2 separate regions of the Homo sapiens genome follow, and region 2 is linked to region 1. A link means that fine-mapping ties the variant in region 1 to the expression of a gene that starts in the linked region. Tissue or cell type: esophagus muscle. Region 1 holds a variant in brackets; the other region holds the start of a gene. All regions are shown on one strand. Distances are from middle to middle. Region 1 overlaps GRB14 (growth factor receptor bound protein 14). Region 2 holds the start of GRB14 (growth factor receptor bound protein 14).

Region 1 (5,389 bases):
CACACACTCACACACACACACACACACACACACTTGGCTGCTTACAATTGCTTTCTGAATAAAATGTTTTCTATGCTAGAGCATAAGGGAGTTGGTGGAGGTGCAGAGGAAGATGAAAGGATTTGCCTAAGCTAATTCCAGACTTGAATGGCAATTATACCCACCATAAGGCAATTTCATTTCCATATTAATTTCAGGAGGTAACACGTATCTAGGAGAAGCATACTGGAAGTCACAAGATCTAGATTCTATTTCTAGCTCTGCCACTGACCTTCTGGGTGACCTTGCATAAGTCACTCAACACCCAAGAGACTCAGTCTTCTCATTTGAAAAAGTAAAAAGCTACAACCTAGTGATGATCTGAGAAAAATGCGATGAGGTAAAAGATTCATTCACAATGTTTGCTGAGGATGTGATCGTTTCTGAAGCACATGAGGAACGTTCTTCACCAGAACCTTAATTCACTTAAATCAGAGAAATCAGATCCTAATAGAATTTGGAAGTGAACATTTTCTTTCCAATTTACTTGATAGAGAATCTACCAAAATACCTTTCTTCTCAAAGATCAAGGCGTACTTTCTCTGCTACAAAATAGATCTATACCACATGAAGGGCCATGTTTAAAATTCAAGTTCCTAAGCACTACCAGAGACACTTACAGCCACTTGGATCAGACACACTACCTGATAAGAAAATTACTCCCTATTGCTACGGAGCATTTTCAGAATGCTCTCAGCCTTTTAAATGATTAGGATTCCATTTGATAAATTATTTGTCAAGGGCCACTCATTCAGGATGAGTGAACTTTACACCAAACCTGTGGAAAAAGCACCTGCCTTCATGGGAAAATAAGTTGCTCCCCAAATTCTCTGAGAAATGCTTGTACTGATTTATAAGATCATTTAAAATTATGGCATATATGGAAAATAAATTAATTACAAGTATGAAATAACTTCTTATATTGGAAGAAAAAATTAATCATGGTGTGACCAGGGCAGATGGATGATTTTTAAATCAGAAAATACCCAACTCCTAAAATAAAAGACATTAAGATCTTCAGAACAATCAAATGGGTATTTTCAGAGTTAAAATATCAGGAGAAGCACATAATGGTGTGCTAAATTATATAAACACCAAAATATGTGCACTCACTGAAAAAAATAGCATAGACTTGAGTCTAGGGAATTTTGACTTTTATAAATATTATAACAGAAACTTGACAAGAAGCTTATTATTAAAATACCACGATAAATCACAATGAGGTGACCATTGGCAGCTCAGATGTAACATCAATAATAACCACCGCTTTCCAGAGTAATCTTGTTTTCCTACTTGGCAAACAGTGCTAGAAGTTATTTTTCTAGCCAAGTTTTCCCATAACCAATTTCCCCTAGGCTAATTGTTCAAACTCCTTGAAAATTACAGCATTCTTTCCTAATGTTTTATAATAATTCTAAAATAATAAAAATAATTTACATATTTTACTATAACCATGAAAATATAAAATATTTGGTTCACAGAATTATAGACACAAATAAGACTGAAGATATTATTTACTGAAAACTCCTCAGTTTGTTATACAGATGAGGAAGTAAAGACTCCAAGAGTTTACTGGATTTGCCCAAAGTCACAGGGCTAGTAAATGGAGAGTCCAGATAGTACATTTTCCATCATACCAACATGTCATCAAAAACAAACCATATGATAGAAGTTTCTTAGTCAATCTAAACTGCAATATTAACCGGATAAAGAAGAATTCAAACATGAGAACATAGACTTGATAAATGTTAATATGCCTTTTCACATCCTCAGTGAGTCCAGGAACCTATATTGTCATTATTAATGCACTGCTAAGTCCAATTCCAAATAAAAGTTAAAACCCAAAGCAAAATATTTTTAATTAAATTTGCTTACAATTAGCAAAAGGCCTCAAGAAAGATAAAGAACTCATGTTGGCAAAATTATCATATAGCTGTTCCAATGCCAAATAAAATATTCTCAGTAAATAAATGGTTGACTGGATAAGAAAATAAGCTGAAAATCTAAAAATTAAAAATAGTAAAGAGGCACTTCGTTTTTAAAAACTATAGCCACTTTAACTGTTAGATTTGCCATGTTTCAAATAAATTGCAACATGACCTTTGACTTAATGGAATGCACTGATAGTTAACAGTTAACTATTAAAAGTTGAGTTCAAAAATAAACACTACAGTTTCTAGTGTCACCAAAACCATTTGGTAAGCATATTGCCAAAACTGAGTTTTAGTGCCTTCCTTCTCAATGCGACAGATTTGATTCTTTAAGAAGTCCAGTGCAATGTTCTTATTTTGGAGAGTTACAAGAAAAGTTTACTATGACTACATGACATGGTTGCATATACCACCTTGTAAAATGCAATGCTGTAAGTGAGACATAAAAATAATCTTTACAAAAAACTAATAAATAAAATATTTTCATACACAGGATTGACTGCATTAATAATTAACAGAAAGCCCTTTCACAGGGGAATTTAATGGAAAGTTTTTCTTAAGCAAATACGCAGAAGCTCAATAGAAATGGGTAGAAACCTGAGAATAAACTGGTAACACATGTTTAAACAGTAAAATAATTGTATAGTCTATTCAACAATGAAGAGATTGATATATTATGAATTATGGTGAAACAAAGAAACTATTCCTTAGTAAACAAATATAAGACATAACAGCAGATTTCCTACTGAGCTAAAAACAAAGAGGCTTGAAGTTACAGTAGAAAGAAAAAAAAGGAAAAGTTTCAATACAGTCTCTAAATCACAGTGACCTGAAATCGAGATCAAACTTCTTTTAGGTGAAAGTTTTTAACTATAGCGATGTCCTAGCGCAGTATTATTTTTCCTAGTTCAATTCCAATAATATGTCCTTTAATTTTACCTACAACTTTAATGAATTATAGGCTCTTTCAAGGGTATGTAAGTAAAGCTTCCTATGTATTAATAAACACACAGTAACAGGGGAAAAAAAGCAGCAAGAAAAATTAAAGAAAAAAAGGATAAAGAAGTCACATACCCTTTTCTGTAG[A/G]ATTATTGGCGTTATTGCAGGCAGAGTGACTCTTCTTGCACTCAAACTCATGCCTGCTCTTCTTAGAATGATCCTGTCTCGTAGGTCATGGACAAAATAAAAGAAATCTTTTATGGTTACTCCTTGGGAATCTCAGGGCTCAGTGCAATGAAACAACTAGGAAAGTAATAAATGTCACCCTGCTTATGTGATTCCAATCTACCCAAAGCCAATTAAGGATGGCTGTGGGACAGGACAAGGCAGCAACCAATCAAAGCCCGGAAAACCCCGCCTTTGTCCTTGGAAACACATTCTGATACTTTTGTTTATGATATTTAAAGAACCAGATTAACAGGCATCTAGTTCGCTCAACTTTTTTTCCAAAACAGTGCAATTCAATGCCATCTTTGTTGACTAGGCAGTTATGTCTTTACTAAAGCATTTCAACATATGGCAGATAAGAATCTGTTTACATTGGTCTATTTAAAGTATATAAATATATTAATGAACTAAATTTACTTATGCTATTCATAAAATTGATGAAGAGATCAACTGGAACATACACAAGGCACAAAAAATAATCCTGAGGTTAGAATTGGCACAAAGTGTTAATTTCTATGGTATAATAAAAGAGTTTTAATATATATTAATATCTTTCATTTCCTAAACATTAAAATTTTTGTATTATAAGCCTTCCAGCTATCCTTGATATCACACACTGTTAAATATTATTTTAACAATAAACCTAAATAATAGTATTAAATACAAAGAGGGGATTAAACTACAATATATCAATCTCAAATACTTATGTTTTTAAAAAGCACAAATGTGTGTGATGTAGCATATTTCATTCCATTAAAAGCATTTAAAAAATAACCACTGCCAAAACTTTCTCAAAATTTTAATGACCATTTTGCATTTCTTCTCATAAAAACTGAAAAGTTTATTCTAATGTTTCTAGGGGAGGGAGGCTGGAGGAGGTTTACAATGGAAAACATCTATAACTAACAAGAAAAATTTCAATGAAGTCTAAATAAAAAATGAAAGAAACACTCAAAAATGACAAAAAGGATTGCAACGTTAAAACTAATCTGAGCTTTTACAATTGTAAAATCTCTTCTGGACTGACATCTGGACAAGCTTCACTGAACTGCTCAATGCTCTTCAATCCTGACCCACTGCCTTCAGCGGGAGAAGAACTGGTAATTTCCAGATTACAATGTGGTTGTTGTAGTAACAAGGCAAAATGGAAGATACTCAGCAACACAGACACAAACTTTCCATTTCGTTATCTTGACTGCTACTAGGCAGTGTTCACTTTACTGCTTTATACATAAGTGAGTTTAATATGCATGGTGAGCTCATATTCCTCAAAAGAAAAAAGAGACACTACAACTCCAAGGATCCCTGCTTTGAATTTCAAAACCAAAAATCCCTCAGAATGGTAGTTGGGAGTGGCAGTAATGCGCTTAATATAAAAAGTCACAGATCTATTTTGGAGGCATTAATTAATTTGATCCTTATCCAGTTAGGTTTATCATGATCTTTTAAAAGAAAATTACCAAGAAAGCAAATACCAACTAATACAGCGATGGGGGGTTAGCATTTGTGAAGTAAAAGATTCTGTTCTAACCTTGAGCTACTTTTCAGCAAGCCAACAATAACAAAGACCATGGTAACAAATAATTTCAAGAATATCACCCATAATATTTGGCCTTATCTGTCTTCTTTTCTCAATTTAGCCTTCAAATATTACAAAGTGTTATCTCTGCATCCTGGCTAACACTGTGAAACCCTGCCTCTACTAAAAATACAAAAAATTAGCCAGGCATGGTGGCACGTGCCTGTAGTCCCAGCTACTCGGAAGGCTGAGAGGCAGGAGAATTGCTTGAACCCGGGAGGTGGAGGTTGCAGTGAGCCGAGATCGCGCCACTGCACTCCAGCCTGGGTGACAGAGCAAGACTCCATCTAAAAAAAAAAAAAAAAAAAAAAAAAGTGTTATCTCTGGTCTCAAAAATTTTACTGGGGTTCCATCATAATGAAAGTAATTCATTTCACTAAATTATCAAGCAAAGTACTATTTGCCAAACCCTGTATCAGGCAGTAGGAACACACTATTATTAAGACAGTTAAGGTCACTGTCTCATAGTGGAATAGAGATATTAATTTTTAAGTTAAAATATCCCATTCAGTGGTAAGTTGAGACTAACAGTGATTAAATGCTAAGTATCAAGGGTGCACCAAGGTAGAAGCAACTGCACAATAGGGGTAAGATCAGGGCAGGCTGCAAGAAGGAAACGGCACTTGCTTTGAAAAGTGAATAGAGGTGAGGAATATGCAGAACTTGAAAACTG
Region 2 (5,389 bases), 53 kb after region 1:
GGGCTTCCATCAAACATATTTCCTACTGTCTCTATCATTTCTGTATATGATCAATAATTCATCTGCTTCCTAAGGTATTTCCTCCATTCCTAAAAATATAAACACACATAGTTGAACCCATTAGAAGCAATAAAGGTGCAGAAATAAGAAAGAGAGCAATAGACGCGGAAAAATGGCCAACTGTCTTGTCCTCGCTGTTCATTATCCTTCTCCCATTTCAAGTACCTGGCTATTTCAATGTATTGTTTCCACCCTTGTAAGAATAAGGTGCATTTTGTCTAGTGAGGCTTCTCTTTGTTTTGCTGGGTCAAAACTGGGAGAAAGTATATGACAAGAGATGAATTATTCTATGATACACTATTTTTTTCCCCTCCAAATGTACAGCCATGATGTATTTTCTGTTAGTTGCTTGGTCCTTAAAATCTAATTTGCTTAAGTCAATCCCAAACTAGAAAAGGAGAAAATCATAAAGATATGGTCCTTAGTCTTCTAATTATCACTACGAGTCATCTATCTTCTGCAGCCAGAGCCTCCAAACTGAGGAATCCACTGAAATGAAGACATGTTGACCCTAAATTCTAAATACCTTTTGCCACAGCATCACTATATCACTTTCCTTAGGTAAATGAGGTTGGCTTGGGTTGAAAATGTGAAAAATTAAAGAAAGTATTAAAGGAATCAGTCAATCCCCTTCTCACCCCACTACTACTGCCCACCCCGTCCCAGCCTCTGCCCAATTCCTGGCTTAAAAATGATCATCTCTTCTACCTATCTGGTGAATGATTATTGTTCTCAACCACTGCACTTTATATATATTCTCTGTTTTAATCCATCCCAAGACCCTCGGAGGTAGGTTTTAACATTCCCATTATACGGCTTAGAAGAATAAGGCCCTAAATGGAAAATAATGCCAAAGGACCATGTCAGTCAACAGAGTTATTTAACAGAGCCCATGCTAATCCTTTGTTAATACTGTAAATTACGGAACACCTTAAAGACTGTATGGATTCAGAACTCCTAAGATTTTTGAAATTTAAAATTTAAAAATGCATACCTGTTTTTTCCTTGAATTTGCTTTGGGAAATAGGTCTGCTGACAACACAGATGTAAATGGAGAACAGCATAGCTCAGGAAAAGGGTTTGGAATAGATGGCATTTCCGGAACATCAAGATCTTTCTTTTTTCTCCTACAGTAAGAGAACATAGGATGTAATTTACATAAAACAGAATGTAAAATATAATTGCTGTCAGGAATAAAAAGTGTGCTAAGGCGAACATGTACCACTCTGTGACAAGGCTCATATTATATAAAGTATATAGAAAAGGTCTGTGATGTACTTTCTATGGGTCAAAATACAGTATGTTAATTAGATACAAACAAATCTCCTATAGTTCCTCTCTTTCTGTCTCTCTCTCTCTCTCTCTCTCTCCCCTCCCACCACCCCTCCCCCCCCCACCGCCTTCTCTCTCTCTTGCCTTTAAATCACCAGGCATAGAAACTCCATCACTTTTGATAATTTTCCTGAAACAGAAAAATAGACTATACAATTACTAATCCAAACATCACCTGAGAAGTCATACATTGTTATGCATCCATGATATTGACAGTCTCTAAGTTGCATTTAGTGCATTCATCCTTATGATATTTTACTAATCACTTTTGGAAGTTATGATTTATTAATTATAGCTGTGGTTCATCTCACTTCAAATTTCATTCACAATGTTGCCCACACACAGTCTGTTGATTTTTCAAGCGCTTATAGATATTAAACAGCAAGGCAGTGTTTTGAGGCGGTAAGTTAATAGAACTTGCTAGTATAAATGTACTATAGTCCACTGGAGAGTAATTTTAACTTCACTGAAGTTGGAGCGCTTTGAAAATCAGGAAAAAAAAAGTAACATTTAAATGTATGAATATAAAGGACTATAGATTTTTGTATTGCTGTAACCCTTTTTCTTTCCGAAAGTATGTGCAACTCTAAAGGCACTTAGTGCTGAATGCTATGGAGATTGGGAAACCCTTTAAAGCCTCTATTCTTTCCTGCCGAACAGCAAGACTGCTCGAATGTCAATCCATGCTTTGCTTCTACAGGGTCGCTGTAAGACTCTATGTGGGAGGTGAATACATTTATGCTACGATTTTTTTAAAATATATAAAATAAAATAGAGTTTACTTTGTGAAAATGCATGGCCACGAAGGAACAGAAGGTGATCAGCCTGCAGCCTGAGCTCCTAGTTTCACCACCGATGGGCAGAGGCGAGAGAGATGAGAGCTCTCAATGAAACGGTGATGCTATTTATAAGGCGCTGTGAGATCGCAATGTCCTGCTGATCCGGTAGGAGCCAGCTCAAAGGGGATTGTCTTCAGAGACTTTTACAAACTTGGCCCAGCTCTGGGCACATGGCTCACCCCCTAGGACCGCCTCCTCACCCCCTCGCCGGCTGCCCAGCCAGGACACTCCCCCGCGCCCTCCAGGGTTGCCTACCTGTCTGCAGCACAGCCGCGGGTCCCGTCCGGAAGGGGCAGGAGCGCTCGCGCGTGCAGCCAGGGGGCCGGCGCCAGGTCGTGGGCGTCGCCCCTCCCCTGGGCAGCGCCACACACCTGGGCGGCCAGCGGCGAATCCCGGGCAGCCGCCCTGCTCGCGGCGCTCTGCCCATCTTGCAGGGAAGTGGTCATTGTCGCCGGCCGGGGGGCTCGGGCGTCATGGGAGACTCGGCGCGTGGGGAGAAGGGGTTTGCGCGGCGGGAGGCGAGGTGCCGGCTAGGCAGCCCGAGCGCTCTGCAGGTGTGGTGGCCTCGCCGCCTGCGCTCGGGGCCCCGGCGGCTGAGACGCGCGGCCGAGCTATCTGCGAGGCGGCGGGGGAGGGGAGGGGGCGGAGGAGGAGGGTGGGGAGAGGGGAGGAGCGGCCGGTGGGTGGGGGCCGCGGGCGGCGAGGCAAGGCGCGGAGGGGGCGGGGAGGGCGCGAGAGCGGCTGGCCGGCCCCGCGCGTGGCCCGGGGCGCTCGGGGCCACTGGCATTGCTCCCGCGCCGTCCCATCCGGGACGCGAGGCCGGGACCGCTGCCTCCTCAGGTGGGCACCGGGGCGCGAGGCTGAGCCCAGGGTCTGGGCGGCCCCGGCGCCGCTGGAGGCGGGGACCCAGCCGAGCGGGCGCTCCCGCTGGGCTTGCCGGGAGGACCGCAGGCGGGATAGGGGTCCGCGCAGCCCTGACCCTCATACCCTTGCATTCTTTCTGCTCTGCCATCTGAGATCACCTAAGCTGTTGCTGGGCCGCCATGACAGTCCCCACCGGGCCAGGAGGCCAGGACACCAGAGGGTTTGCCCCAGTCCTTCCCCACGTGCCTCTTCTTCCATCCACTCCGCAGCCAAAGATTGGGGGGTTGATAGGGAGCAAGGAGTCCAATCATTATAGAAAACTACTGAGATTTTGAGAATTCTCAGTAAAGCATGAGTAAACCTGAAGGTGTCTGGAATTAGAAAGACTATTAGTTTTATGGTAATGAGAGAAGCTTACATTAATGAATTCCAGGTTGCCTTACGCTACCTATTCCATCCTCTCAACAGCTCCATAAATTAGATGTTTATCTCATTTTACACAAAAGGAAACTGGGGCTCAAAGCCATCGAGTACCTTGCACTAGTAACATAGCACTAGTAGCTGGTGGAGTCAATATTCCAACCCAGAAGCTTCCTTCTCAAAAACCCAGACTGTTCGAAATAGTAATGACATTATTATGCTCACCCTCTGAGATGCAGCAACCCTACTCTGAAATGCTGGGTGATCCTGTTTCTGCTCTTCCAGTAAGTGTGCCCGTCCCTATGCACCGTTGAGGATTTCCAAATGTTTCACAGGGTCTTTGTTCTTTGACCAAATTAGGTAATATCTGTCCCTGGCATCTGCTTTACCAGGTTTTCTTAATTTCAACAACCTCTGCCCAGGGAAAGGTAAACACTGCCTCCAGAAGAAAGCAGCAGCTCCCCTCCCCCATCTCAGTGCATTCTCTCCCACCGAGGCACCGACCACTGGAGAACCCAGGGGTCACTAATTCCCAACCTGTGAGGAAACCTGGGGCACTCCGTGAAGACAGAAAATCCTTGAGTCACAGTTCAGGGAATCCAAGTTCTTTATTTTCCTAATGTCAAAATTAAGGCCCAGAAGTGACCTGGGTCACAGCGGGTGTGATCTCTGGGATCTTTTATACCAGGGGTCCCCAACCCCTGGGCCCTGGACCACACCATACCAGTCCATGGACTGTGAGAAACCAGGCCGCACAGCAGGAGGTGAGCGGCTGGTGAACCAGCATTACCGCAAGAGCTCTGTCCCCTGTCAGATCAGCTGGGCATTAGATTCTCATAAGAGAGCGAACCCTATTGGTGAACTATGCCTGCCAGGGATCTAGGTTGCTCCTTATGAGAATCTAACAAATGCCTGATGATCTGAGGTGCAACAGTTTCATCCCGAAACCATCACCCCCACCCCATCCGTGGAAAAATTTTCTTCCATGAAGCCGGTCCCTGGTGCCAAAAAGGTTGGGGACACTGCAGTTTATACAATACTTTGGCTAAGCTAGGACAAAATGGTGATTCTCTTTCTCAGGAAGAAAATAATAATACTAATCATGGTGATAACTAACATTTATTGACACATGTGCCAGACAAAGCCCTCACTCACATCCAGTTCTCTGAATTACAGATTCTATGCCTGAGTTTAAGTGAATTTAATTTAAAAGCATACAGATATACTGAGGTTATTCCAGCAAAAAACAAATGAGGTATGTAGTTGCAGACAACTTGAACTAAAGAAACAAAGAAATAAGTAAACTTTAATCATTAACATCATTATCCCAATTTTATCCAGAACTCTTGCAGGCAGTCACTTCTTCTAAGAATAATATAGTTGAGCACATGAATTAGTGGCTGAAGTTTACACTGTCTCCACTCCCAACAACACTCTCTCTCTATCTCTCCTCCTCACCTCCTCTCTCTCTCTCACACACACACACACACACACACACACACACGGCGGGGGTGGGACAGAGAGAGAGAGAGAGAGAGAAAGAGAGCACACTTTTGATTTTTTTTTTTTCTTGGGGAAAGGGATAGGTGGAATCTGTATATGTCTTTGGAATCACTGGAAATGCTATTCCCCAATGGTGCATCCTGCTCCACATCCTAGCATAATTGCCATAATTTCTTAACCTCAAGAAAGAGTATTCCTTGGCTGGAAATATATCTCTATTTTGTCTCCCCTTTCCAAGCATTCTCCTATTTAGTGGAAATCCAAGGAGGGTCAATTTGCAGGCTTTATGCTCGTCCTCTGACCCCAATGGGTAGACATTGTAATCCTTGAGATTACCAGGGGCAAAAAGAAAAGGAACAGGTCTCTGAGAA

The links. PIP is the estimated chance that this variant, and not a neighbour inherited with it, causes the effect.
Region 2: GRB14 starts here. The variant in region 1 is the best candidate, but not a certain one, in a credible set for the expression of GRB14 in esophagus muscle (GTEx, PIP 0.52).

What each region holds. Positions count from the first base shown.
Region 1 is chr2:164,565,271-164,570,659 of GRCh38, forward strand. The region is part of intron 2 of GRB14 (growth factor receptor bound protein 14); the gene reads right to left. Among named protein-coding and RNA genes, the nearest start is that of GRB14, 54 kb to the right of the region's middle. The variant A/G (reference allele first, on the strand shown) is at 3,057.
Region 2 is chr2:164,618,633-164,624,021 of GRCh38, forward strand. It overlaps GRB14 (growth factor receptor bound protein 14), which reads right to left and starts at 2,850. Exons shown (of 14, transcript NM_004490.3): 1 at 2,487-2,850; 2 at 1,055-1,187. The coding sequence starts at 2,677.